Linked DNA regions of Homo sapiens: regions 1, 2, 3 and 5 are each linked to region 4. The links come from fine-mapping of genetic effects on gene expression. A gene starts in region 4. Each other region holds a variant in brackets. All regions are shown on one strand. Distances are from middle to middle.

Region 1 (6,565 bases), 860 kb after region 4:
ACGCTGTAATACACCTCTATGGATATGCTAATTTTTATGAGGCAGAAAATCCTCTCACCTCTGAAGAGTTACAGGCCCCAAAGACCATCTTTGTAATATTGTATAAAGACACAGGGAAAGGAGATGGGAAGCCTGCATTCCAGTCATGGAATGCTCAACCACTAACATCCTTTGCATGCAGAGACGCATCACCTCATCTGCCCGAGTGACTCGATTTTCTTGTTTATCAGGCAGCATCACTGTACCTGCTTTAAATGGCCTCACAAGGGCATTGTGAGAATCAAATGAGATAATGTACATGAAAGCCTGTGCGCGCTGTACTAATACACAAGTCTCTCATCTGGTTGTGAAATCTAGAATTGATACGTTGCTCTGTGAATGTGCCCATCAATCTTCAACATGGTGCTTGCTACTCCCACTGTCCCTTCTAAGGGAAACTGACCCATCTGCAGCTCCTGCTGACAGACAATCCGAGGCTGCTGTGCACTGTGCCGTATCACCCTGCCCTCCCCATCCTTCCACTTCACCAGACTGAACTGGGCTGGGCACCTTCCCCATCTGATAATGATCCTCATCATCTGTTGCCTCTATGTTTCCTCTCTGCCCTTCCCCTAGGAGGCATACCTCCATGAAACTGCATTAATTCATTAACCAAAACAATACAAAGCAACACAGAGTCTAGCATTCTCATTTTCCTGTCTCTAGATACCAGTCCTTCAGGGAATTTTCCAGAAGTTGAGAAGACTGGTTGCATGAGCCTTGGGTTGGTTTGGCACTCGTGACAGTGTGAAAAGAGCCTCCGCCTCCTCCACTGAGCTCAGAGAAAGGTTTATAGTAAAGCCATTTGCAGGGGTAAGGGAGACAGGATCACATGGTAGCCCAATAACAGGCTTCCCTAGAATGAAAAGCTCTGTCCCAGTAGAGATAAGCCAGGTTATTCTGATTCCTGCCCTTGGAAAGGTCTACCAGGAAATCATGAGTGACTTAAGTAGGACAAACAACACAGAAGGCATACCGAGAGGCCATACAGTTGAGGCTATGAAGAACCATTAGAAGCTGAAGTTATGAGTAAGCTGAAGTCAGGAGGAAGCAGGAACCTTGCCTACAGTGAAGTATGAGGTTGGAGGTTGTGGGTTGACGGGGGTGAGGAAGGCTGTTGATGGGAAGTGAGGGGACACGGAGAAGCAGAAACACCGAAATCAGCTGAGTTATACGAATGACAAGGCACATGTGAAGCTGCACCAACTCTGGCTGCTGGTCTCAGAATTGCCCTGAATCCAGCACAGTCCCTGCTAGGCCAGCTCATCCCTCATCCCTGTTGCTGGGCTCCCACGTGTTCTTGTCTCCTTTACCCTTGCATATGGCTTTACTATACACTTCCTTTCTCTGAACTCAACAGAGAAAGCAGAAGCTCTTTTCATACTGTCACCAGTGCCAAACCGACCCAAGGCTCGTAAGACCTGTTTCCTCCACTTCTGGGAAGTTCCCTAAAGGACAGGGGTCTAGAGACAGGGAAATGAGAATGCTAGACTGTATGTTGCTTTGGAATACATTGCTCTGCTTAATGAATTAGTACACTTTCATGGAGGTCTGCCTCCTAGGGGAAGGGCAGAGAGGAGAAACAGAAGGCAACAGATGATGAGGATCAATTGACACTTTACTCATGCTGATCCTTTCCTCTCACCCAAATCCCACCCACCCTTCATGTTCCCTCTTCCACCAAACCTTCCTCAGCTACTCCAGGCACATCAACCCTGATCCTTTTTTTTTTTGAGTTAGTCAGACTCTGTCACCCAGGTTGAAGTGCAGTGGCAAGATCACAGCTCACTTAAGTGGGCTCAAGCGATCCTCACACCTCCACCTTTCAAGTAGCTAGGACCCCGAGTACATGCTACCATGCCCAGCTAATTTTTTTTTTTTTTTATAGAGGTGGATTCCCACTATGTTGCCCAGGCTGGTCTTGAACTCCTGGGCTCAAGCGATCTTCTAGACTCAGCCTCACAAAGTACTGGGATTACAGGCATGAGACCCTGAGCCCTGACCTCTTGACTCCTATGGTACATTGCCTGATTGGCCCCAGTTCTTCATCCCCTATATCGAGACCTTTTATCTTTCTTTGTGGTTCCTCCCACTAACTGGGCAGAGTACGTTTCACCATCCTTTGAGTTTCCCCATACAACTGGCTTTCTCCAATAACATAAGATGGAAGTGATGGTGTGCCAGCTCCAAGGCCTCTTGTACTTCTTCCATCCCCGAGCAAAGGGTATGCCTAAGCTACCCCACTATTCCCAAGAGGAAGATAAGAGACACATGAAACAAAGCTGCCTCGGCCAAGCTCCCCCAGTTGAATCCAGCCTAAATCAGCCTACCTTTAGATGTCTGAGCTAAGGAAATGTTTATTGTTGTGGGCCACTGATCATTTAGGGTTGTTTGATCTATAGCTGACAACTACCCATAGTACTTATTGTGCATTTCCATACTTGGTGATTTAACAGCAGTGGATTATTTGTACATATGTCATTGTTTCTTTAAGCAGATCTCTGCTGGTTAAGATTGCCAGGTTTAACAAATAAAAATACAGGATTCCCAGTTAAATTTGAATTACAGACAAATAACTTTTTAGAAATCTGTCCCATCCAATTTTTAGAACATATTTATACTAAAATTTATGTAAAATTCAGATTTAACTGGGAATCCTGTATCTATCTGGTAATCCTACTCCTAGTAGTGCCTGAGGCAGGATAGATATCTTACACAACAGCTGTGAGATCATTTACATGGTCACCACCATAATGTTGGGAGGGGAAAGCCATGGTTCAGTTAACGATTTGCAAAGACAGAAAGTGAACCTTGAGCATTCTCCTCTCCCCAGTGGCAAAATCTACTGCTCAGAATAATGGTGATCATGGTTCTCTTTTGCCTAGTCCCTGTATGGGCAGCTTGTGGGCTAAACACCCTATCTAATTTATTATTATACTTAAGTTCTAGGGTACATGTGCACAATGTACAGGTTTGTTACATATGTATACATGTGCCATGTTGGTGTGCTGCACCCATTAACTCATCATATACATTAGGTATATCTCTTAATGCTATCCCTCCCCCTTCCCCCCACCCCTCAACAGGCCCCAGTGTGTGATGTTCCCCACCCCGTGTCCAAGTGTTCTCATTATTCAATTCCCACCTATGAGAACATGCGGTGTTTGGTTTTCTGTCCTTGCGATACTTTGATGAGAATAATGGTTTCCAGCTTCATCCATGTCCCTACAAAGGACATGAACTCATCATTTTTTATGGCTGCATAGTATTCCATGGTGTATATGTGCCACATTTTCTTAATCCAGTCTATCATCCATGGACATTTGGGTTGGTTCCAAGTCTTTGCTATTGTGAATAGTGCCGCAATAAACATACGTGTGCATGTGCCTTTATAGCAGCATGATTTATAATCCTTTGGGTATATACCCAGTAATGGGATGGCTGGGTCAAATGGTATTTCTAGTTTTAGATCCTTGAGGAGTTGCCACACTGTCTTCCACAATGGTTGAACTAGTTTACAGTCCCACCAACAGTGTAAAAGTGTTCCTATTTCTCCACATCCTCTCCAGCACCTGTTGTTTCCTGACTTTTTAATGAT[C/T]GCCATTCTAACTAGTGTGAGATGGTATCTCATTGTGGTTTTGATTTGCATTTCTCTGATGGCCAGTGATGATGAGCATTTTTTCATGTGTCTATTGGCTGCATAAATGTCTTCTTTTGAGAAGTGTCTGTTCATATCCTTCACCCACTTTTTGATGGGGTTGATTTTTTCTTGTAAATTTGTTTAAGTTCTTTGTGGATTCTGGATATTAGCCCTTTGTCAGATGGGTAGATTGTAAACATTTTTCCCATTCTGTAGGTTGCCTGTTCACTCTGATGGTAGTTTCTTTTGCTGTGCAGAAGCTCTTTGGTTTAATTAGATCCCATTGGTCAATTCTGGCTTTTGTTGCCATCGCTTTTGGTGTTTTAGTCGTGAAGTCCTTGCCCATGCCTATGTCCTGAATGGTATTGCCTAGGTTTTCTTCTAGGGTTTTTATGGTTTCAGGTCAAACATTAAAGTCTTTAATCCATAGTGAACTAATTTTTGTATAAGGTGTAAGGAAGGGATCCTGTTTCAGCTTTCTACATATGGCTAGCCAGTTTTCCCAGCACCATTTATTAAATAGGGAATCTTTCCCCATTGCTTGTTTTTGTCAGGTTTGTCAAAGATCACATGGTTGTAGATGTGTGGTATTATTTCTGAAGGCTCTGTTCTGTTCCATTGATCTATATTTCTGTTTTGGTGCCAGTATCATGCTGTTTTGGTTACTGTAGCCTTGTAGTATAGTTTGAAGTCAGGTAGTGTAATGCCTCCAGCTTTGTTCTTTTGGCTTAGGGTTGTCTTGGCAATGTGGGCTCTTTTTTGGTTCTATATGAACTTTAGAGTAGTTTTTTTTTTCTAATTTTTTGAAGAAAGTCATTGATAGCTTGATGGGGATGGCATTGAATCTATAAATTACCTTGGGAAGTATGGCCATTTTCACGATATTGATTATTCCTATCCATGAGCATGGAATGTTCTTCCATTTGTTTGTATTCTCTCTTATTTCCTTGAGCAGTGGTTTGTAGTTCTCCTTGAAGAGGTCCTTCACATCCCTTGTAAGTTGGATTCCTAAGTATTTTATTCTCTTTGAAGCAATTATGAATTGGAGTTCACTCATCATTTGGCTCTCTGTTTGTCTGTTATTGGTGCATAGGAATGCTTGTGATTTTTGCACATTGATTTTGTATCCTGAGACTTTGCTGAAGTTGCTTATCAGCTTAAGGAGATTTTGGGCTGAGACTAAGGGGTTTTCTAAATAAACAATCATGTCATCTGCAAACAGGGACAATCTGACTTCCTCTTCTCCTAATTGAATACCCTTTATTTCTTTCTCCTGCCTGATTGCCCTGGCCAGAATTTCCAACACTATGTTGAATAGGAGAGGTGAGAGAGGGCATCCCTGTCTTGTGCCAGTTTTCAAAGGGAATGCTTCCAGCTTTTGCCCATTCAGTATGATACTGGCTGTGGGGTTGTCATAAATAGCTCTTATTATTTTGAGATATATCCCATCAACACCTAATTTATTGGGAGTTTTTAGCATGAAGGGCTGTTGAATTTTGTTGAAGGCCTTTTCTGTATCTATTGAGATACTCATGTGGTTTTTGTCTTTGGTTTTGTTTATATGATGGATTATGTTTATTGATTTGCATATGTTGAACCAGCCTTGCATCCCAGGGATGAAGCCAACTTGATCGTGGTGGATAAACTTTTTGGTGTGCTGCTGGATTCGGTTTGCCAGTATTTTATTGAGGATTTTTGTATCGACGTTCATCAGGGATATTGATCTAAAATTCTCTTTTTTTGTTGTGTCTCTGCCAGGCTTTGGTATCAGGATGATGCTGGCCTTGTAAAATGAGTTAGGGAGGATTCCCTCTTTTTCTATTCATTGGAATAGTTTCAGAAGGAATGGTACCAGCTCCTCTTTGTACCTCTGGTAGAATTTGGCTGTGAATCTGTCTGATCCTGGACTTTTTTTGCTTGGTAGGCTATTAATTATTGCCTCAATTTCAGAGCCTGTTAATTGTTCTATTCAGGGATTCAACTTCTTCCTGGTTTAGTCTTGGGAGGATATATGTGTTCAGGAATTTATCCATTTCTTCTAGATTTTCTAGTTTATTTCCATAGAGGTGTTTATAGTACTCTCTGATGATAGTTTGTATTTCTGTGGGATCGGTGGTGGTAGCCCCTTTATCATTTTTTATTGTGTCTATTTGAGTCTTCTCTCTTTTCTTCTTTATTAGTCTTACTAGCACTCTATCAATTTTGTTGATCTTTTCAAAAAACCAGCTCCTGGATTCATTGACTTTTTGAAGGGTTTTTTGTGTCTCTTTCTCCTTCAGTTCTGCTCTGATCTCATTTATTTCTTGCCTTCTGCTAGCTTTTGAATGTGTTTGCTCTTGCTTCTCTAGTTCTTTTAATTCTGATGTTAGGGTGTCAATTTTAGATCTTTCGTGCTTTCTCTTGTGGGCATTTAGTGCTATAAATTTCCCTCTACACACTGCTTTGAATATGTGCCAGAGATTCTGGTGTGTTGTGTCTTTGTTCTCATTGGTTTCAAAGAACATCTTTATTTCTGCCTTCATTTCATTATGTACCCAGTAGTCATTCAGGAGCAAGTTGTTCAGTTTCCATGTAGCTGAGCGGTTTTGAGTGAGTTTCTTAATCCTGAGTTCTAGTTTGATTGCATTGTGGTCTGAGAGACAGTTTGTTATAATTTCTGTTCTTTTACATTTGCTGAGGAGTGCTTGACTTCCAACTATGTGGTCAGTTTTGGAATAGGTACGATGTAGTGCTGAGAACAAAGTGTATTCTGTTGATTTGGGGTGGAGAGTTCTGTAGATGTCTATTAAGTCTGCTTGGTGCAGAGCTGAGTTCAATTCCTGGATATCCTTGTTAACTTTCTGTCTCATTAATCTGTCTAAAGTTGACAGTGGGATGTTAAAGTCT
Region 2 (6,565 bases), 70 kb before region 4:
CCTCTTAAGCATCCTTTAAAAAAAAAGAATATTAAATTGCCAGAGAATGAAGGCTATATCATGTACATGTTTCCACAGGCATAGATATCCTGAGGAAAGAACTAAAAGAAACAAGTAATTCTTAACTCAAGTGTAAATTTAGATGATTGAAAAGATCATTATCTATTTTTTTTTATGGTCTTACTTTGGTGTCGGAAAATAGCAAATTTTACATTTAAAGAAAATTTAAAATACAAAACCAATATGAGAAATGAGCTACCTGGATTCATCTTTCACTGAAAACAACTAAAAGACCTATCTTCTTAAAGAGATCTATGAGTTGGCAAGAAAGAAATTTTTTTGCTAAAAAAAAAAAATGAAGTATATGTGGGAACCTTGATTTCTGAAGCTGACTTTCAGCTGAGGGCATCTGCTGAACCAAGTGCATTTTATTTTCAAGTTTCATGGCCTCACAGAGCTTCACAGAACCAGAAGAATAAAATAGAAAACCCAGGATCCACCTAAGATATAGATGTTAACAAAAGATCCCCCACCTACTCTCACATATGTAAAGCTAGGACTCCAGAGTTAGGTTAAACCCTCAGTGTAAGAATAAAACAGAACTATAACTCACTATACTCTACCCCCAGGAGATCACAATGAAAATGGACTATCTCAAACTCAGTCACGGGCTGATGTAGCGGGGAACTACTGATGAGAATATGGAACTATAAGCCATCTGTCTGGTCTGCAGCCTAAATTCACACTACCTGGGTGGTCAGAAAAAAACTCAAGCCGAGAATTTAATTTAAGTGATCCCAAACTGGTAGTATCTAAGGGAGTGTAGCAGAAGCAAATGCAAATCCTCTTTGAAGCAACTTACCATCAGTCCAGGCCTAAATGAATTCCCACAAAGTTCCACCAAAATAAAAAGCTTACCTTAAGAACTGAACAAAAAAGGAAAGAAAGCATCACAAAGCAGAACCAGCAATTACAGCATATAGCAGAAATAAAATTACAAGGATTCTAGAATTATTACACAGATTGTAAAATGCAAAATTTAACATGGTTTAAAAAAAGACAGGCTTGAAAATATAGCCAGGAAAAAAGTGACAGAATCATCAAGCAGATTTGAAAAACACAGAACTTCTAGATGAAAAATAAAACTGAAATTAAAAATTGAATGGGCCAGGCATGGTGGCTCACGCCTGTAACCCCAGCACTTTGGGAGGCCATGGCAGGCGGATCATGAGGTCAGGAGTTCAAGACCAGCCTGACCAACACAGTGAAACCCTGTCTCTACTAAAAATACAAAAATTAGCTGGGCATGGTGGCAGGCGCCTGTAATCCCAGCTACTCAGGAGGCTGAGGCAGGAGAATCACTTGAACCCAGGAGGCAGAGGCTGCAGTGAGCTGAGATTGTGCTGCTGCACTCCAGCCTGGGCGACAGAGAGAGAGTCCATCTTAAAAAAAAAAAAAAAAAATTAAATGAGTGGATGTCAATTCTCCAAAAATTAAATTACAGACTTAATGAGTTAAAACTATAAAACTTCTAGTACAAAACAGAAGAAAATCACAGTAACCTTGATTTTGCCAAAATTTCCAGAATAGAAAACAAAAAGCAAAAACTATACCAAAAAATTGATAAATTGGACTTTCTCAAAACTAAAATTTTTGCCATTCAAAAGATCCTGTTTAAAAAAAAGTGAAAAGTCACAGACTGGGAAAAAATGTTTATGAAACATATACCTGACAAAGGGCTTAATTCAGAATAAATAAAAATACTCTTATTCAATAATCACAAGGAAAACAATCCATTTTTTTAAATGCAAAGATTTGAACAGATACCTCACTAAAGAAGATACATGGATGGCAAATAAGCAAATGAAGATGCTCATGATCATTAATCACTAGGAAAATGCAGATTAAAACCACAATGAGATATCACTACATATCCACTAGGGCAGCTAAATTTAAAAGGCTGACCATACCAAGCACTGACCATAACTTCATAATTCCATTGAGGATACAGAGAAACTAGTGTTACGGAATCCTTAGGGTGTCACTTTTCCAGCCAGACACCTCTGTGGCCAGTGGTGCCTTTGTCCGAGTTTTGCTCAGGCCCCCTGGGCTCGTTCCACTCACTCAAGCTGGCAGGCTGTGCTTGGCTGGTGCTACTGGCCCAGATCTCACCCTGCCAAGGGTGAGCCAGGCGTAGTGCGGTGAGCGGTGTGTGAGTGAGCACAGGGTCCGGCCACTGTGCAGAGCTAGGCGTGCCAGCTGTGGCAGGGCAGGTGGTGCCATGCAAGGCTGTGGCTGGACCAGATATATCACATGCAACTACCACTGCAGACACCCACATCTGGACGAGGGGAACACAGTGGTTCCTGGAAGGTGGGAGATGCCAGGAACCAGAGAGTCCCAAAGAGGGTGCCATAGCCCTGGCTTAGGGAGCACCTAGGTCTGGGCTCCCCAAAGGGCTGCAGCTCTTTTCTCCTTCTCAAGGTCTGCAGCATGGCAGGCAGGAGGGCATGTTTCAGCCCTGTTTGTGTTACAGCTGTTTCAGATCCACCATTTGGTGGAACCAGAGTTCTTGTCCCATGTCCAAGAAGAATGAGGTATGTGGACAACTGGAGGGTGAGCAAGGCAGAGAGGAACTTCACTGAGTGACAGAACAGCTCTCAGAAGACCCAAAGCGGGCAGCTCCTTTCCGCAGGCAGGTTGTCCCAATGAGTGTCTAGCTCTCAGCAGAGAGGAGACCCACAGTGGGTAGCCCCTTTCTGCAGGCAGGTTATCCCAATGAGTGTCCAGCTCCCAGTGGAGAGGAGATGGGCAGTGGGTAGCCCCATTCTGCAGACAGGTCTCCTGACAAGTGTCCAGCTCTCAGCAGAGAGCAGACCCAAAGTGGGTGGCTCCTTCCCATAGCTGGTAGTCCCAACATTTGTGTCAGTCTGGCTGAGTCCAGGGTTTTTATGGGCTCAGAAGGGAGGAATGCATGCTGATTGGTCCATGGGCAGCCATGGGCATGTCTGGAAAAAGTACCATAAGTTCACACTCCCGGCCACAGACTCCACCCAGAACTGGCAACCTGGCCTCCAGACTTCACGTAGGCCCTGGCTTGGAGGTGGGGGTTTCACTGAGACCTGCCCCTTGCTGCACAGGAATGTCTGCCTCCCACCATCAGCATGCATCCATGGTGCATGGGCTGTTTGTGCCAGGGGACACCTGTAGGCCTGTGCCAAGCTGCCCTTAGCCATCACCCCACCCCAGCCTCACTCCTGTGTTGGTTGGTGCCCAAAATCCTGAACAGGCTGAGGCAGCAGGGGCTGGTGTCAGCACTGCC[T/C]CGAGTGCAGGCACACCTGTCCAGGTCGCAACAGTGCCTAGGCTCGGCCACAACTTTGCTCTGTTCTGGAGCGGGTGCTGGGAGCAGGGAGAGGCCAGGGAGGTGGAGCAGGTACTTCCGAGCCTGCAGGGGAAGGGGCATCGCAGGCCCCTGAGAGTGCAGGGATGCCCAGGTCCAGAGCTGTAGCTGGGCAGCTGCAACTGCGCCCAGGAGCATGGGGCTCCTCTGCCCCACTAACCTGGTAGGAGGTGGGGCTCCCATCACCTGTGGAGCATGCAACCCAAGCCACAACTCCCCTGCTGCAGCCAGTGTCTTCCCAGCAGCTGCTCCAGATGGGCTGCCACTGCCACCACTAGAATTCTGATACATTGTTGGTGGGAAAGTAAGATGGTACAACCATCTTGGGAAAAAGCTTGACAGTTTCTTAAGTTAAACATGTACCGTATACCATATACCACACAACACAGACTTTCCACACCTAGCTATTTACCTAAGAGAAATGACAGCATATATCCATACAGACTTGTAAATGAATGCTCATGCTGCTTTATTGGTAGTAGCAAAAAACTAGCAACAACTCGAATATCCATCAACAGGTGATTGAATAAACTAATTGTGATACAGCCAAACAATGAATACTGTTCAGGAATAAAAAGAACCACTGGTTTCTGCAGCAACAAGGATGAAATCTCAAAATAATCATGCTCCATGAAAGAAGCCAATAAAAGATTATACACTGTATGATTTCATTATGTATAAATCTAAAAAACACAAACTAATGTATAACTACAAAAGCAAAATGAGTGCCTACCATATGTCAAAAGATTGAAAACTGCAAACCATTCTAGCATATACTTTAAACAAATGACCCATAAAACTGTAGAATTTTTCACGAACATTTTCAACTTTCATTTTTTCATGAACATTTCAACTTCAACTATCACAATTCAGTATGTGATAACTGAGACTCAGCATGGTTACATTCTGCAACTTAACTCCAGTTTAACTTTTTGCTCCTTTGGTAATTAGAATTTGCACCTTTGGATGACTTGCCCCCTAATATGTGTAAGTATCATGATTCGTAAGGTATTTTAAGGGTAGGGAGAGAAATGAATGAGAGAAAAGACAGATGAATGGGTCAGGTTTCCTGGGGTTTATGAATTAGGATATATATCATGGCATTTGTTAACCTATGGCAGCATGTCAGGGCAAAGAGTGTTGGAAGGAACAGATAAGAGGAAATGTGCTGGTAGATATGGCTGGAAAAGGTTTTTCAGGATGAGTGGCTGACAAGATTATAGATTAACCTATCAGATTATCTGTTCAGAAGGTATTAAAAATGGCTGCCAGAGAAAGACTGGAGATTTCAATTTCAGTGTAACTTCAAAGTGTAAGATGAGAAAACATGGTTTTCTCAAACAGGCACTTTGAATTGGCAAAATGATAATAAAATGAAATTAAACAGCTGATTTTTCTAAAGCACTTGCTATAAATTCCAATTAGATATCTGCATCATTTAAAAACTTCAAAAGCACATATTAGCAAACAAATGCAAAAAGTACATTAAAAGACTAATACAGTGTAAGTAGAGTTAAATCAGAACTGCAAAAATGGTTCAACTGTAGAAAATAGCTACCATAATTAACCACACGGGTAGATTTTAAAACCCAAATAATTATAGCAGAAAGGAGAAAACAGACTATAGGAGAAAGACTACCATCCAAAGCAAGTCTTAAATTGCAACAAAATGGGGCTCTTCTGAAAGAAAATGCCTAATAGAGACTATATTCATAAAAGTGCAAAGAAGGCACCAAAGATCCTGGCTAATACGGTGAAAACCCATCTCTACTAAAAACTATAAAAAAATTAGCCAGGCATGGTGGCGGGCACCTGTAGTCCCAGCTACTCGGGAGGTTGAGGCAGGAGAATGGCATGAACCTGGGAGGTGGAGCTTGCAATGAACCAAGATCGCGCCACTGCACTCCCGCCTGGGTAACAAAGCAAGACTCCGGCTCAAAAAAAAAAAAAAAAAAAAAATTTATATTAATGGGGTCTCCCTAAACTCAAAGATTAGCCCACACTTAACATATTTACTACAAATAGCCTTAAAAATAGGAGATACATAACACATTCCATTTTAAATCTTCACAGTGGTCAATGGTGCTAACAGGTAAGTAACATTTCCAAAGATGAAGATGCTAAAGCTAAAAGAGGATTAAAACTATATGGCTAATCAGAGGCAGTAGGTGGCAGGCCTGAACCTAGGTCGTCTCTATAGCCCACATACTTCACTTCATACCACAGCACCTATGGTGAGGCTCAACTAAAATGGCATCTAATTCATATCCATTAATAAGACTGAACATCTCATGATACCACAATACATAGATTTTACACAAGTACGATAGACATTATTACTATCCAAAGTGGTAGATTTTACTATCATCCCTATTGCATCAAGGTGAAAATAAACTTTATGTAAGTTTATTAATTTGCATAAGAAAATACTGCATCTAATTTCACAGCACTTTTAAAGACATATAATTTATATTTATAATAAAAGTACGTATATAAACAAATACAAACACACTCATAAAAAAACATATTGTTTATTAAACCCTTAGTGTTTTAATTTATGTTATCTCACTTTTAATACTGTTAAAAAACCTGTAAGGTAGGTATTCTTTTCCCCATTTTAAAAATGAAGGAAAGTGAAGCTAAGAAAGGCTAAGTAACTCTTCAAAACCTACATAACTAGTAAATGATTAAAACAAAAGATGAGGCCGGGCGCGGTGGCTCATGCCTGTAATCGCAGCACTTTGGGAGGCTGAGGCAGGCGGATCACGAGGTTAAGAGATCAAGATCATCCTGGCTAACACGGTGAAACTCCATCTCTACTAAAAATACAAAAAATTAGCCGGGTGTGGTGGCGGGTGCCTGCAGTTCCAGCTACTCGGGAGGCTGAGGCAGGAGAGTGGCATGAACCTGGGACACAGAGCTTGCAGTGAGCCAAGATTGTGCCACTGCACTCCAGCCTGGGTGACAGAGCGAGACTCTGTCTCAATTAAAAAAAAAAAAAAAAAAAAAAAAAAAAAAAACAGATGAACCCAGATTTGTCTGACCCCACAGTTCATCCTTTCCTTTCTAATAGTACATACTGCCTAAAGTTCAATAAAGGGATATTCTATAAGCAAATGAAGAAAAAACTGAAGACATCTTCACTACTTAATATTTTTTATGATT
Region 3 (6,565 bases), 250 kb before region 4:
CACATTTGTTGAAAATTCTCTATGTGCTAAGCACTGTGCCAGGGCAGATCCAAGCAAGAATATATAAAGTTATACTGTTCCTCATTTTATGCTAGCAATTTTCAATTGCCTGGCCTGATTCTAAGCTCCTAGAGGGCAGGAACCATGTCTTATACTGTATTTTGCAAGGTTCATAGTATCTGTCAATAAATATAGAGTGAATGACTCAGCGACAACCAGTGTTTGGAGAGATCCAAGGAGTGAGCTTAAACCACAGAGAAAATGATCTTGAAAATCAAAATGTTGGTTCCCCAGTCAGGACAGCAACGTCCCTTGCCTCCTAGATGGCCCGCCCCATATTACCAAACACATGGCATTGGGGAAAATCAAAGTGTCACAAAATAGTCATGTCTCCTGTCACAAAATAATCAACTCTGTGGTTCAGGTATAACATGGAAACAGTACTAGGACTGGAGCCATCAGTGTGTTCATTCTAGGTCCAGACACAGGCTCCGTGCTTGTGAAGAGAACCCAGGGCTTCTGACTAGAGCACAAGAAGGCCACCAGGACCTGGGCCAGGGACTAGATCCGTGAGATCTCCAAAGTCCCCATGGGCAGAAGCCTTAAGCCACCAAGATGTAAAACTTGATCCTGGATGGGGGGCTAGGAAACCAAGTGGAGATTCCCACAAAACCATGAGACCAGGAAGGGTGAGCTCAGGTGAGGTCTTCACTTCCAGGTTTGTAAGTGTTGGAGAGCCCTATGGCTGTCCTTGGACCTATCCTCTTCTCCACCTCCCTGAGTAACTCTGTCCAGTCCCATGGCCCTCATCTGATCAACGATGATGCCTATATTTACAGCTCCAGACCCAGACTCTTCCTGAGCTCCAGATACTTGGATATCGGATAAGTATCCCAAAGTCAACACGTCCAAAACACATCTCATGATTCCTATCCCAAACCAGCTCCCTCTCCACATTTCCCTTTCTCAGGAAATAGCATTGCTGTTCAGCCACTCTGGCCAAAATCCTAGGAGTCATTTTTGAGTACTCACTTTTCTCTCACACCCCATATGCAATCCTTCAGCAAGTTCCGTTGGCTCCATACTCAAAAGATACGCTGAATTTGATGGCTTCTCATGACCTTGACCACTACGGCAGTGTATGAAGCCAGCCAACCCCACCTGCCTGGGCTACTGCTGCCGTTTCGTGCGTCTTCTTGCTTCCTCCTTTCTCCTCACTAGTCTGTTCTCCACACAGCAGTCATAGTGATGTTTGAAAACCATAAATCAAACCATGTCACTCCACTACTCAAAATCCTCTCGTGGCTTTACTGTATGCCTAGAATAAGATCCCAAACTCCTCCTGTGGACTACAATGCCCCGCCCAGTGTGGCCTCATTTCCTGCCATGCCTTCCTTGCATACTGTGCTCTGGTCACTTTGACCTTCTTGCTTTTCCTTGAGCCCTGTTTCTTGCCTCTGGACCTTTCTACCTCCTCAGTGTTCTTCTCCTGGGTCTTTGTATAGTTCCAACCTCATTTCACTCTCGTGTCCACCGAAATACCTTCCAAAGAGGATCTAGCCCATCTACTCTCCCTTCCCCATGTCCTCATCACTCTTCACCCCCTTTCCTTGTTCATTTTTCTTCATTGTCACTAACTGAAACTATCTATTTTGCTGTCGTTGTTGACATCTTTCCCATATCAGACCCATGAGGGTAGATATTTTGTCTTTTTTGTTATTTGTTATATCCTTAGGGCTTGAATCGTGTTTGGTACATAAGAGGCACTCAAGGAATATTTGCTGAGTAAATTAGTGAATGGATAAATAACCTCTAAACTTAATGCCATATTACTATACTTATGATCACGTACGTAGTAACTCTCATGGAGTAATTTTTAAAACTAAAAGCCCTAGATTTGTAGGAAGGCCTTTCTTTGTGGGGGAAAAATGGTCCCCAAAAGAAACCAAAACAGTAGAGTTGCTAACAGGACAGTGCAGATGATAAAGAGAATGACTAGTTGCCTTCATAAAGCAAAACTCAGGTTTTGCAAGGTTGAGAAAGTGTGGCTGGGCCTTTCCTCCTCCGCCTCATTCTTGTCTCAAAGTTCCCCTACCCCTGCCCCAAGACCTCTGAACTATTAACACTTGCACCCTAGCTCCAATTTCTTACAGCAGAACTGAGACCACACTGGATCATTTCAACAAGACTTCACCAACTCAGGGAAACTGAAAGAAATGCTTGGTATACAGTGAGCCGGGTGCTGTGAGAGGGCACAGGGGAGGAGGAGGAGGAAAGAGCTCTGGCAATGTCCTTCCCTGAGGGCCAGGCTCACTGGCATTGCAGGATGGCCACTTTGGAGAAGACAATGTAAGGTTTGGGAGGTAGAAGGAGGACTTCAAAATGGAGATGGGAAGGTGCTTATACTTCTAATTGTTTATGTCCATCTTCCTCACCACTCATGAGAGATGAAAACTTGAATCCCAGTTTTTACAAGAAAACACCGTGCTTGGAGGCAGGAGTGGCAACAGGTCTGAGTGCCGCAAAGCTGGTGCTTTTTAATCACCTTGGATCCCCATTCCACGAGGACCCATGGAACCAAGGGCCACTTCTCCAGCTGGGGCCTGAGGAACACCGGAAGTGTCCACTTACAGTCTATGGCTTTAAAAAGCCTACAAACATGTGTGCTGGCTTGTTTTAAAATAAATGGTGTCACCCCTGGTTCCCCATGATTCTCACACCAAAGTGGGAGTGGGGGAGCCCGCAGGGGAAGGAAAGCTCTGAAGCAAAGCTGCTCCCTAACCATAAGGCCAGAACCCAGCTAGAAACATGACTGATGATGTGATAAGAGGGTGCCTGAACCATACGGAATGGAGAACAGGAATTCCAAGGTAACTGGCTGCATCTTAGGAACACAGTTTCCATTTACCCACTTGGAACAGAACAATCTGCAGCATAAAAGGAAAGTAAAATTTGGCAGGGCTCATTGTAAGCTGGTGAGGAGGCATGAGTGGAGAGAATTCCTAAAAGAGATCCTAACTTAATCAATCACTTGAAGCAGGAGGCAAAAAGCTGCTTTCAGAAATAGATCAAAAGGGTTGGATTGGCCCAGGCGTGCACACACCGTATCAATCTCTGGCCCAACCGTGCGAGGCCCCAGGCATCACCTCACAAGCGTGCACAGAGCAGCCTGGTTTTATTTGTAAATGCACAGGAACCATCTGAAACCCAACCCCAGGGTAAGGCTGATGGGGCAGGGGCCATGTGGAGTAGGAGTCAGGACCAAATGGAAATTCCCTTGGATTTATTTTCCTCCTGACTTCATGCCAGTGGAACACACACTAAATTCATCCCCAAACTGACAAATTAGTGGGGCCCCATCTAAGAGATGGAAAAGGGCCTGAGGCAAGAAAGAAAGGCCAGGGCTGGCTGGTGCCAAGGACAGAAGACCTGCCTCCCTGGCCTGTACCTGCACGAACTCAACTCCCAGGAACTGAGGCCACTCCTGTCTCTCATCTCCGTGCTCAAGGCTTTGAGCCCAGTATCCAGCCTTAGTTCACCTAACCCTCTGCACATGTAAGAGACTATATTAGTAGCTTCTTTATTTACACAGAAGACATTAATTATATACTTTGTGGTCCATCTTGCTTTTCTCACTTTATATCTTTTTCTCACTTTACAGTATCACTTGGAAATATTTCCATATTAACTTTGGTCCTATGAAAGAATTAAGCCCAAGCACTTTAAATCAGCAATGAATATCTGGAATTACGTTTTCTCCTACGCATTCAGAATGGTACTAGTCACATACAACGCTTGGGAGAATTAAGAAAACAGTCACTCAAAACACTTTCTGTTTTCTGGGGTTTGGATGAGGACGTGGGTTAAGAAAGGCTGATGGGGTATGGTGAACTACAATTTAACCAGTCCTGTATTGATGGACATTTAAGTTGTCCCCTCACCCCTCTTATTTTCCTACTACAAACAATGGTGCAATGAATATCCTT[G/C]TAACTGTAACTTGGAGAACTTTGGTGGATATCTCTGTAGAGTCAATTCTTAGTGCAAAAATGCTCCACAGCTAGATTTTAAGCTCCTTCAGGATAGGAAAATTTTTAAATCATCTTTCTTGCTCCCTCACTTAGCACAGTCAATATATAGTAGGGACTCAATAAATACTCGTTGACACGGATTAGTGAAAAAGATACAATCCATACCCTGAAATAATAGAGCCATAAGCACAAAACAAAAAACAAAAAAATGGTTTATGATAAAGTGGTAAGAAAAGTGGTATGGACCTGGTAAAAAGTGCTGCAGGAATTCCAAATGGATGGTGTTAGGTCTTTGATTTCTACCCTTTTTCCTGCATCTGAATTTTATATAACATTGCTAATTAACATCTCCTTCCAAGAGACCAGCAATGGATAGATCACTCCTGCCTTCTTACTCCTGGAAATAACAAGCAGGTGGAAGAAAAAGAACCTGGTCAGAGCTTATTCCTTTCATTGTAATTTTTGGGAGACATCTAGAACATCACTGACAGGCCTGATTTCAAAACACAATCTTCTACTAAATTGACTGGCTCAAGATGTTAGTAAAAATAAATATATATATGGAAAATGCTAGAATTTGGAATTTCATATTTTCCTATCTAAAATAATTTGGATCAGGGCTAGTTATGAACATATCCCACTGCAAACCGGCAATTTCTAAATTCATACTGTACCACAGATATGAGGATTCCAGGCTAGCTATGGGATTTGGGACAACTGTTGTTCACTTTGATACTAGCTGATATTTCATTAAGATGATGTTATCATTATCTTATTAGCAGCACAGCACAACACTGTGAGATTGTATCACCATTTTGCAAATTGGGAAACTGAGGCACAGAGAAATTGAGTACTTGATATCCCATAATTCCTAAATAGCAGAGCTGGCTTTGAATGTTATAAATGTTAAATGTTAAAACCAGCTTTATAATACAATATTTTACAATATTCTTTCCTGATTTATTAATATTAGACATTACCTATTAATTTCTTATTTCAGTAGATAAAGCTCTCTTCAACCTACCCCCTTCCTTTCTTTCATCTTCTTTTTATAGTTATATTATAATTTTTTGGTTAAATCAATAGTCAGAGTTTACATTTTATATGATAGGGATACTATTTTTTAAAAAATTTAATTAATACTTTTCTTTTTCCCCTCAAATAATTTTTCCCCACAGAAAACCATGCGTATGTTCGTTCACCAAGAAGACAAATATAAGAATGTCCACAGCAGAATTAGTTATAATAACCTCCTACTAAAACCAGCCCAAATGCCCATCAACAGTCAAGTGTATAAATAAATTATGCTATACTCATATAATTGAGTACTCTACATACATAATAAATCAATGAGCTATTTTTATATGCAACAAAATGAAAGAATCTCAAAAACATAATATGGAGCAAAAGAAACCAGACACATCACAGTACATTAATCTAATTATATAACATACAAAAACAGACAAAACTAATACTTCAGTTAGAAATAAGTACAGTGGATGCCCTTGAGGGAGGCATAATGACTGTAAAGAGGTGAGAGGGAGGCTCCTGTGTTCTCATAATGTTCTAGTTCTCCATCTGGGTCCTTTATATATGAGTATATTCGTATTTTCACTTTGTGAAAATGCAACAATATGTATACTTAGAATTTCTGTATTTTTATATATGTGTTTTACTTCCATAAAAAAGTGTTTTTAATCATTATAAAAAGATATTCACATCTTTATTATCTTTTGACCTCCCAGATTTTAAAGATTTTGTTGTACTTGTAACATCTGTTTATCCCTTCACCTCCCAACTTTTATTACTTTAATGCTTTTTCACAATCTCTTGGTTTATCTATGCTTATATTTACATTCTCTTCTGTTATCAAAAACCCTACATTTGTTTTAGTTTTAGTTCTGCAGTTAAATAGACTCAGGGCTCACCACCAGATTATTTTCCTGAAGTTTTCCAGTCTTCTCCTAGGTAATTAAAATGCATGCTCTTATTCATCAAAAAAGCTCAATGAAATAATATTCCCTCCACTATGTTCTCATATATTCAAAACGGTTTGTTGGTTGCTTTAGTACAGTATTAGAATGATAGTTCAAGAAAGTATGTTCTATTGTCTTTTAGTCACTCTGAGGCTTGTCGGTTAAAGCCCTATATTACCTCCTATAAGAAATCAATTGCTTTCTTTCCTTCTTTCTTTCTCTCTCTCTCCCTCTCTCTTTTTCTTCTGTTCTTTTTTCTTCCTTTTTTCTTTCTTTCTTTCTCTTTCTCTTTCTTTCTTCCTTTCTTTCTTTCTCCTCTCTTCTCAAAGGATTCTTTGATGTGAAGTTCAGTAATTTTTTGAGGATATATCTCTGAGTTGACCATATTGGCTCATTTTTTTTTCTGGCTGTGTCCTTTCCATATAAAGATTCATACCTCTCTTTTATTTCAGGAAAGATTTTTTTACCTTTAAATATTTGTTCAGTCCATTATTTCTGCTGCCTTCTTTGAAGACCCTACATTGAACCCCTTGGCTTGTCTTCCGTAACTATCATTTCTCT
Region 4 (6,565 bases):
ACTATTTAGATGTCTCACAGTTAACTTAACACATCCACAATGGAACTCTTGATGACCATTTCTTGCTCTAAAACCTGTTCCTATTCCAGTCCTTCCCATCTCAATAAGTGGCACCCACCTATTTGCTAAGCCAGAACCTTGAAAAAAAAAATTTTTTTTTTTTTTTGAGACGGTCTCACTCTGTCACCCAGCCTGGAGTGATCTCAGCTCACTGCAAACTCTGCCTCCCAGGTTCAAGCAATTCTCCTGCCTTAGCCTCCTAAGTAACTGGGATTACAGGCGTGTACCACCACACCCAGCTAATTTTTCTATTTTTGATAGAGACGGGGTTCGTCACGTTGGCCAGGCTGGTCTCGAACTCCTGGCCTCAGGTGATCTGCCTGCCTCGGCCTCCCAAAGTGCTGGGATTACAAGTGTGAGCCATGGCGCCTGGCCAGAAAATTCTTTAACAGCTTCATTGACATATAATTGACATGCAATACACTGCACATGTTTAAAGTGTGCAAATTTGATGTTTTGACATATGTATACATATCACTACAATCAAGAAAATGAACACATTATCATCCTCCAAAGTTCCATTTGCTAAGTCAAAATGTTACAAATCTTTTTTTCTTTCATCTCACATATCCAGACTATTAGTAAGTCACATAAGATCCTCCTCCAAAATGTCTTGAATCTCCACGATCTTCAGTGAGCCTTTAGTCCTCAACCTCCCTCACTTGAACTACCACACTCGCCTCTTAACTGCCCTCCCTACTTCCACTCTTGCCCCTGCAACTCATTCTCCACTTATCAACTCAAGATCATTTAGAATATGCTTTAGAAACAACGAATTACTTCCCACCCCATCCTTCACTTAGAATCAAGCCACATTTTTATGAGGCCTTTGAAAAGGCCCTGTCGGACTGAGCCCTGCTCACCTTTCTAACCACCTTTACTACTTGCTGGAGCTCCTCAGCTCTTGTCATAACATTCTTTCCCACCTCAGGTACTCTCTGCCTGGAGTATTCTTCCCCCTGCTTGTCAATTGGCTGGCTCCTTGCATCCCTTAGATCTTAACATTTCAGGCCTAAAATAGGTTTCTCAATTATATTTTAAAAGGAGCCTATTTACTTCCTGTATACAGTAGGTTATAACACAATCTGTAATTATTTTTATTTTACTTGTTTATTGCTTGCACTGCTGTCAAGAGAGTAAATACCATGAAAGAAGGAAATGCATGTGCCTTATTCACTTCCATATCATAGAACCTAGCACTTAACAGATGCCCTACAACTATTAAATGAACATAATATGTACAAATATGGTCTCTACAGAGGAATATACATTTATTTTCCACCACTCTTAGGCAATGCCACACATTGCATTCATCTCTTTCTGAAGAAGTGATGGCACATAAGAATATTCCTATTCTTCAGTGACTTGGGATTTTTCCCTCCTTTCAAACTATCTTAATCACTGTAGGCACATGAGCATATTCCAAACCAATAATTTGGAGGTTGCTATGATGTTACTAAGGGAAGAGCCACTAAACTAGGACGACTGCAAATCAGGACAAAGGGGCAAAAGGACGTGCACACTAACAAATACTAAATTAAAATTGGAAAAAAAAATTTAAATTCAAGAAGGCAAACAAAGGAGGACAATTTCTTAAGAAGCACCTAAACAAGTTTCCATGAAGGACCAACAGAGTGCTTGAATGTTAGCAGATTCCCAAGTCACAAAAACAAAATACTAGAGCTGAAAGAACCTGAGATCAGACAGTCCCGCTATATTCAGAAATCTGAGACCCAATGAGGTGAAACAGTTTACTCAAAGGGGAAAGATATGTGGCAAAGGACTATAGCCCAGTGCCTGGAACACCAAGACTAGTCTCGTTTCCCATTCCACACACAATATGTTAATGACATGTCACGTGAGGGGTTCGAGGAAAGTTGCCTAGAGAGTTCCCAATTCATTCCTTTCCTCCGGTTACTGAGCGCCTCCTACATGCCAGGCGCACTACAGAAGGTGCAGTTGATTCAGACAGGGCCACCATGACCGTGAAAAGGGTGCTTCCTCTCCCACCTCCGATAATTTTAGGTATAAAAACAATCCAGGTAAATTAGCCGGGTGTGATGACGGGCGCCTGTAGCCCCAGCTACTCGGGAGGCTGAGGCAGGCGAATGGCGTGAATCCGGGAGGCGGAGCTTGCAGTGAGCCGAGATCGCTCCACTACACTCCAGCCTGGGCGACAGAGGGAGACTCCGTCTCAAAAAAAAAAAAAACAGGCTTGCCCAGGCTTTTCTATGTCTGTTATGCGCTAAGAGCTGCAGCAATTTGGCTGAAAAGAGGTGTCACGAGGTAGCTAGGAGGGGTTTTCGGGTGGTCGGTTGTGAGAGACCGCTGACAGTAAAATGTAATGAACTTCTCACTTTTAAAAAAGGGGTGTTATTGCCCAAATGAGCGCTCAGAACTTTTTTAATGGCCCCAAAGATCCCGGAGCCCGGACGCCGGGCTCTTGAGAACCCGCAAGACGACCGCCAAGGCGCACGCACAGCTCACCTTCCCGCCCGGCACGTCAGAAGACCCGAGATTCCGTGAGTGCCACCGCACCTTCCGGTTCCCGCCGGAAGTTTTTCAAACGCCAGAAGGTCCGCCTCGCTTCTTCCGGACCAAGTTAGCCACAGACCTCCAAGGCGCGGCGCTACCGAACGGGGCGGAGCCAGGCTGGACGGAGGCGGGGCTAGAGCGAGGATCCCGAGGGAGCGCCGGGGTGGGGCTGGTTCGTAGAAATGAAAAATGACTTTTTTTTTACGTGTTATTTACCAAGAACACTAAACTCTTAAGCCCACAGATACAGCCAAATAAATTAGATTATAAAAGTAGGGAAATAAGGCTGCTGTTGTCTACATTCGAATTTAGCAGATCAAAACCCCATGGATTTGTTTTAGAAAATTCTAAAAAGCAGCTTTCCACTGCTAATGACTTATTTCCAGGGACTCTGAGTACTGAAGAGCCTAGCAAGTTATTGAAATGACCTGTGACCGTGCCTTGTTGCAGATCTACCGGAAGTGAGCATAGATTTTACTGGATAATTTTTGTGATTGGGGGAAAAAAAAAAGGATTCTTTCTAAATTTAGTAAATCTAATCTTCTATATCTGAGATTGTTGGCCAGGAAAGATCAGTTTCCGAGATTGTTTAGGGATTTTTTTTTCCTTTTAATTAGCACAGTCGTATGTTGCCTTTAGTGATGGTTCCAGAAGGCCTAGAATTGTCTACTACAATCACAGTCTCCTTCACAATTTATGGTCCTGAAGAAATACTAGAGAACACCTTACCGTTCAGGATTGTGGGAAGAGAAACCAGATCATAGAAATCAACAACAATAATGTACTACTTACTATTCACCTACTTTTGATGTTGCATTTGCTACTCAGGTTTATGGTAAGGGGTTGTCTTGGTCAATTTTCTGCTGCTGTAACCAAATACCATAGACTGGTAGATTTATAAAGAAAGAGATTTGTTTGGCTTGTAGTTCTGAAGGCTGGGAAGTCCAAGACAGAGGGCATTATTGTTGTGTCAAAATATGATGGAGGGCATCATACTGGGGTAGGGGTGGGGGAGGCATGTGAACCCAATTGACTCCCGAAATAACTAACCCTCCTGTGATAATGGAATTAACTCATTCATGACCTAATCATTTCCTAAAGGTCCCACCTCTTCATACTATTACAATGACAAGTTTCAACTTGAATTTTTGAAGGGGACATTCCAATCATTGCAGAGGTAGTAAGGGTAAAGGTGAACTAATATACTGCAAAGTCTTTTGACATAAGTCCTGCCCTGGAGGAATTTACGACCAAGAGTAGGAACCAGATACAGCCAGAGGAAACAGACACCCAAGCAAAACAGTCTAGCTTCAAGGGTTGGGTATGCAGGTAGTAGCCACACTACAGTGAGGAGGAGAGTAAGAGTGGGCCAGCAAAGCATTGAAGCTTGACTTTCCTCTCCCCACAAGGGATTTTTGCCTTACAGCTGGGGAAGAAAAAAAAAATCACAAAAATAAATAGCCTGTTAAGATTTTAGACATCAGACATCTGGGGAAAATAAAATCTGAAGCAGGTTCTCTAAAATTAAAGTATGTAGGTAGTGGCCTACTCTAAAGGCCAATAAGGACTGTCCAGAGAATATTTCCCTTGGAATTCTATAAGAGAGTCACTCCCACTACACGCTGTCAAGGAAAATTTGTAATCACTTAAGTATAAAACAGGCCCTCCCACAAAAACTGCCTTTTCTGTCTAGGACATTGCCCAATCTATTGTTTACTTTTGGATCTCAAGTGCTGAATTCCAAGAAATTCATGGGTTTAGACTGAAAGCCTGGAATAATCCGGACACCCACCTGAGACTATGCAATAGGGTTTGGGAGTAATGAAAACATGTTTTGGATTTGATGGAGGTTGTTTTATCCCTCCAAAGTATATAGCTCTTCCCATGATATTCACTGATACATTATCATTTGTATGTTATTATCTGTTTTCAAGTCCTTCCCCTATGGGTTCTAGCTCCCCAGGGCAAATGTAATAATAATAGTAATAACTTACCTTTATTGATTACTTACCTGTGCCAGGCACTAAGTTAATGCTTTTAGATGTATTTATGTATATAATTCACATATTACCCCAATGCAATATTGCTATTAAACCATTTTTATAAATGAGAATACCAGGTATAAAGAAGTTAAATAATTCATCTAAGGTCACATCAGCTAATAAATTGTAGATCTGAGATTCAAATCCAATAATCTGCTTTACTCCAAAGCAAGTACTCTGAAAGGTATCCACATACAATTTGCTGTCTATCCACAGGGGATTGGTCTGAGGACCCCCCACAGATAGCAAAATTTACAGATACTCAACCAATCAGTGATAGAAAAAGTTGGCCCACCACATCTGCAGGTTCCATATCCATGAATGCAGATACAGATGGCCAGCTGTACCACAAACTCAAAGCAAAGACCTTTTCTCGCTCCACTATGGTGGCCAGTGAGACTCTCAATGTTTAAGGTGCTCCAGAACTGTCGAATCTCTAAATACTCTAAATAAAGTACTGTCTAACCACCTGAAACATAACAAAGCTATTCTCTCTATTGGCCTCAAACTAAGTTTCATAAGAACAAAAATTCTTAATATATTAATAGATGCAACTGTTTCACCTACTAATAGATATTTGGATCTAGGAACTAACTCTTGGTAATTTTTTATCTCCCCCTCTCCAACTTCTCCCTCCACCTACACAGTGCCTAATAATGCTTAACATATAATAGGTACTCAATAATATAGTAGACTAACTCCTGGACCCAAAAACATGTCTAAAGTAAAAACAAATTTTCCTCCCCTCTCCACCTTCTCCCGCCACCCACACAGTGCCTAATAATGCTTGACATATAATAGGTACTCATTAAAAATAGTACACTAACTCCTGGACCCAATAATATGTCTAGAGTACAAACAAATTTCTCTTATGAGAAAAGTAAGTTAAAGCTCTTGACACAGAAGGTGGGTTGCCATTTTAAAAATCAAGTGTACTTATGAAAATTCAAACATTTTATCTCTGAGAGTCAATCAGTGTGATGGTTAATTTTGGGTGTCATCTTGACTGGATTAAGGGATGCTCAGACAGCTGATAAAACATTACTTCTGTGTGTGTCTGTGAGAGTATTTCCAGAAGAGACTGACATTTGAATCAGTAGACTAAGTAAGGAAGATCTGCCCTCACCCAATTTCGGTGGACACTATCCAATTGGCTGAGGCCCAGATAGAACAAAGAGGAAAGGAATATTTTCTTTCTCTCTCTTTTGGAGCTGGGACACACTTTTTCTCCTGCCTTTAAGCATTAGAACTGCATGTTCCTTTGGACTCCAGGACTTAAATCAGTGTACCCTCTCAGCCCCATGTTCTCAGGCTTTTGGCCATGCAGTGAGAGTTACACCATTGGCTTCTCTGGTTCTGAGACCTTCAGACTTGGACTGAGCCCTACTGCCAGCTTCCCTGGCCCTCCAGCTTGCAGATGGCCAATCACTGGACTTCTCAGCCTCTATAATTTTGTGAGCTAATTCCCTAAAAAATATTCTCATATATCTTTATGCTGTATTTATTACACAAACACACACACACACACCCTACTAGTTCTGTTTCTCTGGAGAATTCTAATACAACTAGCAAAGGCAAAAATGATAATAATAATGGCTGTTTCAGATTAAAGAATGAGCAAACAAACTGAGCCCTAGTTCAAAAATTTGCATATTTAATTAGCCAGGCATTGTAGTGGGCACCTGTGGTCCCAGCTACTCTGGAGGCTGAGGCAGGAGAATCGCTTGAGCCCAGGAGGTGGATGTTGCAGTGAGCCAAGATTGCGCCACTGCACTCTGCACTCCAGCCTGGATGACAGAGTGAGACTCTATCTCAAAAAAAAAAAAAAAAAAAGTATGTATTAGCTCCTATCTCCCCTCTTTTCCCACTGTCAGACGTTCTTATTCCTAAACACTAAAGCTCTTTGGCTTCAATGACCTTCTCTGACT
Region 5 (6,565 bases), 140 kb before region 4:
TTAGAATTATGAGTTCAAAATGTTTTTTCCCACAACTCCACAACTACTGCATTCTATCTTCTATCATTTATTTTTTATCAATAATAGGACTGTTGTCAATCTCATTCTTTCCTTTGCAGATAAACTGTTTGCTCTCTGAATACTTTTAGTCAGTTCCTCTTTATCACGTATTCTGAAATTTCATAAGCAGGAATTTAGTGTTGGCCTTTTGTTATTCTTTACTTCTGCATTCATAAGGTGTTTTCAGAAGACTTGTCTGTCTTCAGTTCAGGAAAATTTCCTATTACTTCTGTGATTATAACTCCATACTATTTCAATTTTACATCAGATGAACGCTGAAGGTTTAGAACGTCCTCTGTATCATGTGACTTTTTGTTCATGCTTTCCACCTTTTTCAGTTCAAAACTGCATTCTGAAGGAATTCAACCTTCCAATTCATTAATTTGCTTTTAACCGTGTCCACTCTATTTAGTCCAATTATGCATTTTAATCCTGATAATTACATTCTTAAATTCTAAGATATTTGATTGGTTTGAATTCATTTTAATACATATTTCTTTATAAATGCAATAATCTCTTTTCTCTCTATGAATCTTACTTTTACTTATTTCAAAGTCTCTGTTACTTATTCATTGTCTCACTCGCTATTACTTTTTGTTTATTAAGTTTGGTGCCTCATTTGTCTACCATAGGTTTTCCTCAAATGTTTAATCATTCTTGGTAGTGAGATCGTTTCAGAGTCCCTAACTGTCTGTCTGTGTATGCTGTTTCTGTTTACTATTCCCCACCTCCGGTGATAATGTGGGAAATGTGGGACATCATGCCAGGTGTCATGTACATGGCAGGAATTTATCTTCTCAGGATGAGGCTCCTTGAGCTTCCTGACATTCGAAGGTCTCTTGAGCTATCTCCCAGCCTCTCTGGCCTATGTTAAGGTCAGTGCTTCAGCTTGGATTCACAGTATACTGGAGGAGGAGGTCAGTACAGGCCTAGCTTTGCTATATGTATCTTCTTATCTAATACTTCAGACCCTCTCCCTACTATTTGAATCTGACTAGTTTGGCTCTACCGGGAACTGCACCTACCTCAAGAACATAATGATACACAATGATCTGTATATGTTTTGAACTGTGACTCCACCAGGTTTTATTTCTCCATGAGTGTGATTCCCCATGCTTAGTATCTGTCAGGAATTCCTGAGATTTCCATCCACTAATGGGAGGGACCCTTTCTTGTTTTCCCATGCTGTTATCAATTTATTCAAATAAATATGTATTTATATAGGTACACATGTACACCTTTTCTGTCAACTCATGGAATTAGGAGTTCTGAATATGCAGCTGATGATGGTAGTGTAATTAAAGAATATCATTAATTCAGCCCACCATCTTGATGACGTTCTTAGTTTCATTATTTGCTGAACAGTGAGTAGTCCAATGTTAATATGGCTATTTTTTTAAATCTCAGACTCATATATCCAACTCCTACTTGACATCTTTCCTTGGATTTCTTATAGGCATCTCAAACTTAACATGTCTAAAACTGAATTACTGATCTTAACCCACCAAACCTGCTCTACTCAAGCATCATCCACATATCAGAACCCTTGGAGCAAGTTCTTCATAATTCCTTTCCCTCACTTATCACCACACAAACCCTGCAAAACAGACTTGACTTCTTTCCATCTTTACTGCCATTAACTTTGTCCAAGCACTATTATTTCTCACCTGGGCTAGTACAAGAGCCTCCTAGCTGTTCTATTGCTTCTCTTCTTCCTAAGTCACTCTTCCCAGATCAGCCAGAGCCAATGCTTAAAAATATAAATCAGATTGTGCCACCCCCCCTTGCTTAAACCTCTTCTATTACTTCTCACTGTTGTTAAAATGAATCCCAAAGTCTTTCACATTAAACGTTATCTCTGAATCCCAATCTGGAGGTTAGGTCTCCACTATTTACTTAAAGATCTCTTTGAAGTCAATAGCTTATTAGCCTGCCCAGGTTTCATAAATTTGGAATCTTCTCTTTATTCCACTATCTTGCCAAGATGCTCCATAACTTTATCTTGAATGAATATAATTCCTCTTCACTATAATGCCTATATCACAAAACTGTTATAGCTGTACTTTTTCTTTCTCGAGATGGAGTCTCGCTCTGTCACCCAGGCTAGAGTGCAGTGGCACAATCTTGGCTCACTGCAACCTCTGCCTCCTGGGTTCAAGCGATTGTCCTGCCTCAGCCTTCCACGTAGTTGGGACTACAGGTGCGCGCCACCATACCCGGCTAATTTTTGTATTCTTAGTAGAGACAGAGTTTTGTCATGTTGGCCAGGCTGGTCTCAAACTCTTGACCTCAAGTGATCCACCTGCCTTGGCCTCCCAAAGTGCTGGGATTACAGGCATGAGCCACTGCACCTAGCCAGTTGTACTCTTTAGATACCAGTCATTTCTATCTACTTGTAGCTAGATCAGTCCCTTTAGCAACTATCTTTCTGAAATGAGTAAGTCCAGTTAAAGGTCTGAATGCCTTAGTCCAACTTGCTATAAAATGGAAATATTCCCAGTTGAATCTCAATATATGACAGGTTAATCTAAGCTTTGCTACCATGAGATCTTGGGTAAATGTCTTAAGTACTCCAGGACACTGCCTCTTTTTCTATCAAATGAGGGGGGTAGGGTTACATGAATTCTAAGGTGTCTTCCATATCTAGTAGTCACAGATTCCATGACATAATATATTTCTTTAGAAAAAGTGTAGTATAGTACCTATCATTCAAATCCCATAAAAATTATACAGAAGGAAATACTCTATTTCACATTTAATAGCTTTTGACAAGGAGGAAAACAATGTGACCCAAGCCTTCTGGAGACAACTTCCCCACATACCATTTTGCTATCACCATAAATTCACTCTGCCAAGGTTTAGTGCTGTCTTGAATTGCCCAATGAACACATACAACCTCAAGAATTAAAAATACAGTAACAACAAAAACGAGTACTATTATTACCTACCACTTCTCTAATCACACATAAGATCTACTTATCTACTGTGAAGATCAAGTTCAATGCATGATATCACTATTGTAATTATTTTAGATAGCACCACCATTTTTATAATAATGTTAAAAGAAGAGGCTCTCTCTCCAAATTAGTTATTAGTTTCATCTAGTGTTTTCATAGTCTTTCAATCTGACCACAGTCAATTCTAAGTCTTAATCAAAATCATTAACACGAGAACAACAATGACAAAAATAATTCCCTCCTTCCCTGATGACTTAAAACTCCTACTTTCCACAAACTGTATAACCTTGAAAATGGGAATCTACTCCCACAGACACTTAATTACTATCCCAGGTTTGAGTACTGCTCCTTGTATTGATGGATTTCATAAATTAAATGATCCACATAGCTTTACCTGATACATTCCAACTCCAATGTGCTTTGGCTCAATTTTCACTAGCTCAGCTAATGGATCTTGTACACGCCTTGCTATGGAAACTGAAAAAACAGAA[T/A]CAGAAAACAAGTATGACTTAATGTGAAAAGCAGTACCTAATAATTACTTACATTAGTTTCTCATAATGTAAGTACTTAATCCTGTCCCTCCTCATCATCCCTCTAAAAAAGGCCAACAATTTAAATTTCAAAGTTCTCTTTTTTCCCCACACAAAAAGTAAATGCAAAATTTCATGAATTATGTCATCAGAACTCCTAGGCATTCTTGAACACAAAGTAGTTTGACAGGATTATAGATTTGGAAAAACAAATAAAACGTTTACTCCCTATACTTACATGATTACCTATTCATTCTTCATTCTTTACGTAAAGCATAATAGGATACCTCATGCTTCACAGAGGAAGCAAAACCTTGTTTTAAATAATTCTGCATTATTACAAATATATTTATATGTCAAATATGCTTATTAGAACTCGATCCCCCAAATAATGAACAAGTGACGGAATTACCTCCTTTTTTAAAGTTCCTTTTTTTTAGAGATAGGGTCTCACTCTGTTACCCTGGATAGAGTGCAGTGGTGCCATCTCAGTTCACTGCAGCTTTGAACTCCTGGGCTCAAGCAATCCTCTTGCCTCACCCCTCCAAAGTGTTGGGATTAGAGGCATGAGCTACTGCGCCCAGCAGAATCATATCTTAATGCAACCAGAGATCAAGTTACTTGGCTAATGAATATACTCATGTGGCCTTGAATATGACTGCAAGATTGCCCTGGCAAGTGATCCTCCTTCTGTCCCAACTGCTTGTCTCTTAACACACCATAGTTCTAATTACATCCCTTTCTTGACCATTACAATCCATGCTCAAGAAACTTTAGAGTTAATTTCAAACATTCCTTTAACTGTGTCATGATTTTACTTGTTCGTCATTTATTGTCCTTTTTTTTTTTACCAAATATCAATAAAAATTCACATCTAATTTCGTTTATAAGATAGATTTAGCTAGAAAAAAAAGATAACTATTACAACTCTTATGAATAGTTCTAAAGGCAGCCTCCCTCTCCAGTAGCATATTTACACTGAGTCTTTATATATATATGAACTGCTTCCATTTTCAAAACACATGGAAGCTAATCAGTGTCACCTTCTCATACAGGTTAGATGAAATATAAATTCATTAAGTGAAAATATTAAGACCATCAAAGAAAATCCTATGCCTGTTTCCATGTTAAGCTGTTCAAGGTCTGGAAACAAAAGTCATCTCTTGCAAGTGACTCTCAGATTCTCCAGTCGCTGATTTGTACCACTTCTCTAATCAGACATAAGATCTACTTATCTACTGTGAACATCAAGTTCAACACATGATCATTCAAGTCTTTTTCACATCCTTTATTACTACATCTAATATATAGTGACAATAGCTCCTTGCAAAGCAAGCTTAGAGAACGCTGAGCTGGCGTTACACAATCTATTTTTCTCCCAGAAGAGACGGGGATTCCAAGGCCTTCACATAAACCTTTATTATTTAAAGAAATCAATCACAAAAGGTTAGTTAGTGCAAGCATTGCAGGTGATAGGAGAAATGCTTTCTTCTAATAACCACATTTATAATTACAGATTTAAAGTAGAGATATACTTGAATTTCTCTAAAGCAAATATTATTTCTTTAGCCTAACATTTAAATGTGTAATGCAATAAGAATGATTTTCAACACATATACATTGCCAAAATACTCTGAGTAAAAACAACAACAAAAACCCCCACAACAGTAAACCAAGTCAAGAATTTAAGAATACAGGGATACCTCATTGTATTGCATTTTGCTTTATTGTGCTTCTCAGACACCACATTTCTTCCAAGTTGGAAATTTGCGGCAACCCTGAGTTGGGCAAGTCTATTGGTGCCATTTTTCCAATAGCATGGGCACACTTCTGGTCACTGTGTTACATTTTGGTAACTCTCAGAAATATTTCAAAATTTAATTATATTTGTTATGATAATCTGTGACCAATGATCTTTGATATCACTATTGTAATTGCTTTAGAACACCACGAACCACACCTATAAGGTAACAAACTTAATCAATAAATGATGTCTGTGTCCTGACTGCTCCACCAACTGGCTATTCCCCTCCCTCCCTCTCCTGGGGCCTCCCTATTCCCCGACACACAACGGTATTGAAATCAGGCCAATAAATAACCCTACAATGGCCTCTTAAGTGTTCAAGTAAAAGGAAGAGTCGCACGTCTCTCACTTTAAATCAAAAGCTAGAAATAATGAAGCTTATTCAAAAGACATGTTGAAAGCCAAGAAAGGCTGAAAGGTAGGCCTCTTGGGTCAGTTAGCCAAGTTGTGAATGCAAAGGAAGAGTTCTTGAAGGAAATTAAAAGTGTGACTCCAGTGGACACACAAATGATAAGAAAGCAAAACAGCTTTTTGCTGATATGGAGAAAGTCTGAGTGATTAAACCAGCCACAACATTCCCTTAAGCCAAAGTGTAATCCTGAGCAAGGTCCTAACTCTCTTCAATTCCATGAAAGCTGAGAGAGGTGAGGAAACTGCAGAAGAAAAGTCTGAAAACAGCAAAGGCTGGTTTGTGAGGGTTAAGGAAAGAAGCCATCTTCCTAACATAAAAGTACAAGGTGAAACAGCAATTGCTGATGTAGAAGCTGTAGCAAGTTGTCCAGAAGATCTAGTTAAGATCATAATGAAGGTGGCTACAATAAACAGCAGATTGTCAATGTAAACAAAATAGCCTTCTCTTGGAAGAAGATGCTATTTAGGACTTTCATAGCTAGAGAGGAGAAGTCAATGCCTGGCTTCAAAGATTCAAAAGACAGCCTGACTCATTTTATTAGAGGGGAATGCAGCTGGTGACTTTAAGCTGAAGTCAAGGCTCATTTGCCATTCTGAAAATCCTTGGGTTCTTAAGAATTATGCTAGATCTACTCTGCTTGTGCTCTATCAATGAAACAACAAAGCCTGCACGATGGCACATATGTTTATAGCATGGTTTACTGAATATTTTAAGCTCACTGTGGAGACCTACTGCTCAGAAAAAAAGATTCCCTTCAAAATATTAGTGCTCATTGACAATGCACCTGTCATCCAAGAGCTCT

Alleles and levels. Alleles are on the strand shown, and positions count from the first base shown. SD is a standard deviation of normalised expression in the study named. Not every link is listed here.
As copies of C replace T in region 1, the expression in prefrontal cortex of the gene that starts at base 2,596 in region 4 goes down (moderate effect, 0.45 SD a copy in ROSMAP).
In carriers of allele C in region 3, the expression in monocytes of the gene that starts at base 2,596 in region 4 tends to be higher than with G alone (moderate effect, 0.68 SD a copy in BLUEPRINT).

The links. PIP is the estimated chance that this variant, and not a neighbour inherited with it, causes the effect. A credible set is the group of variants that fine-mapping cannot tell apart.
Region 1: its variant is the best candidate, but not a certain one, in a credible set for the expression of SRBD1 in prefrontal cortex (ROSMAP, PIP 0.89).
Region 2: its variant is the best candidate, but not a certain one, in a credible set for the expression of SRBD1 in T cells (TOPMed, PIP 0.59).
Region 3: its variant is the best candidate, but not a certain one, in a credible set for the expression of SRBD1 in monocytes (BLUEPRINT, PIP 0.58).
Region 5: its variant is the best candidate, but not a certain one, in a credible set for the expression of SRBD1 in whole blood (TOPMed, PIP 0.59).

What each region holds. Positions count from the first base shown.
Region 1 is chr2:46,469,095-46,475,659 of GRCh38, forward strand. No RefSeq gene overlaps it. Among named protein-coding and RNA genes, the nearest start is that of TMEM247, 7.2 kb to the right of the region's middle. The variant C/T (reference allele first, on the strand shown) is at 3,638.
Region 2 is chr2:45,538,896-45,545,460 of GRCh38, forward strand. The region is part of intron 14 of SRBD1 (S1 RNA binding domain 1); the gene reads right to left. Among named protein-coding and RNA genes, the nearest start is that of SRBD1, 69 kb to the right of the region's middle. The variant T/C (reference allele first, on the strand shown) is at 3,323.
Region 3 is chr2:45,355,596-45,362,160 of GRCh38, forward strand. No RefSeq gene overlaps it. Among named protein-coding and RNA genes, the nearest start is that of LINC01121, 100 kb to the left of the region's middle. The variant G/C (reference allele first, on the strand shown) is at 3,987.
Region 4 is chr2:45,608,672-45,615,236 of GRCh38, forward strand. SRBD1 (S1 RNA binding domain 1) reads right to left here and starts at 2,596. Exons shown (of 21, transcript NM_018079.5): 1 at 2,548-2,596. RefSeq lists an enhancer at 2,247-2,416.
Region 5 is chr2:45,473,582-45,480,146 of GRCh38, forward strand. It overlaps SRBD1 (S1 RNA binding domain 1), which reads right to left. Exons shown (of 21, transcript NM_018079.5): 16 at 3,412-3,494. Among named protein-coding and RNA genes, the nearest start is that of SRBD1, 130 kb to the right of the region's middle. The variant T/A (reference allele first, on the strand shown) is at 3,509.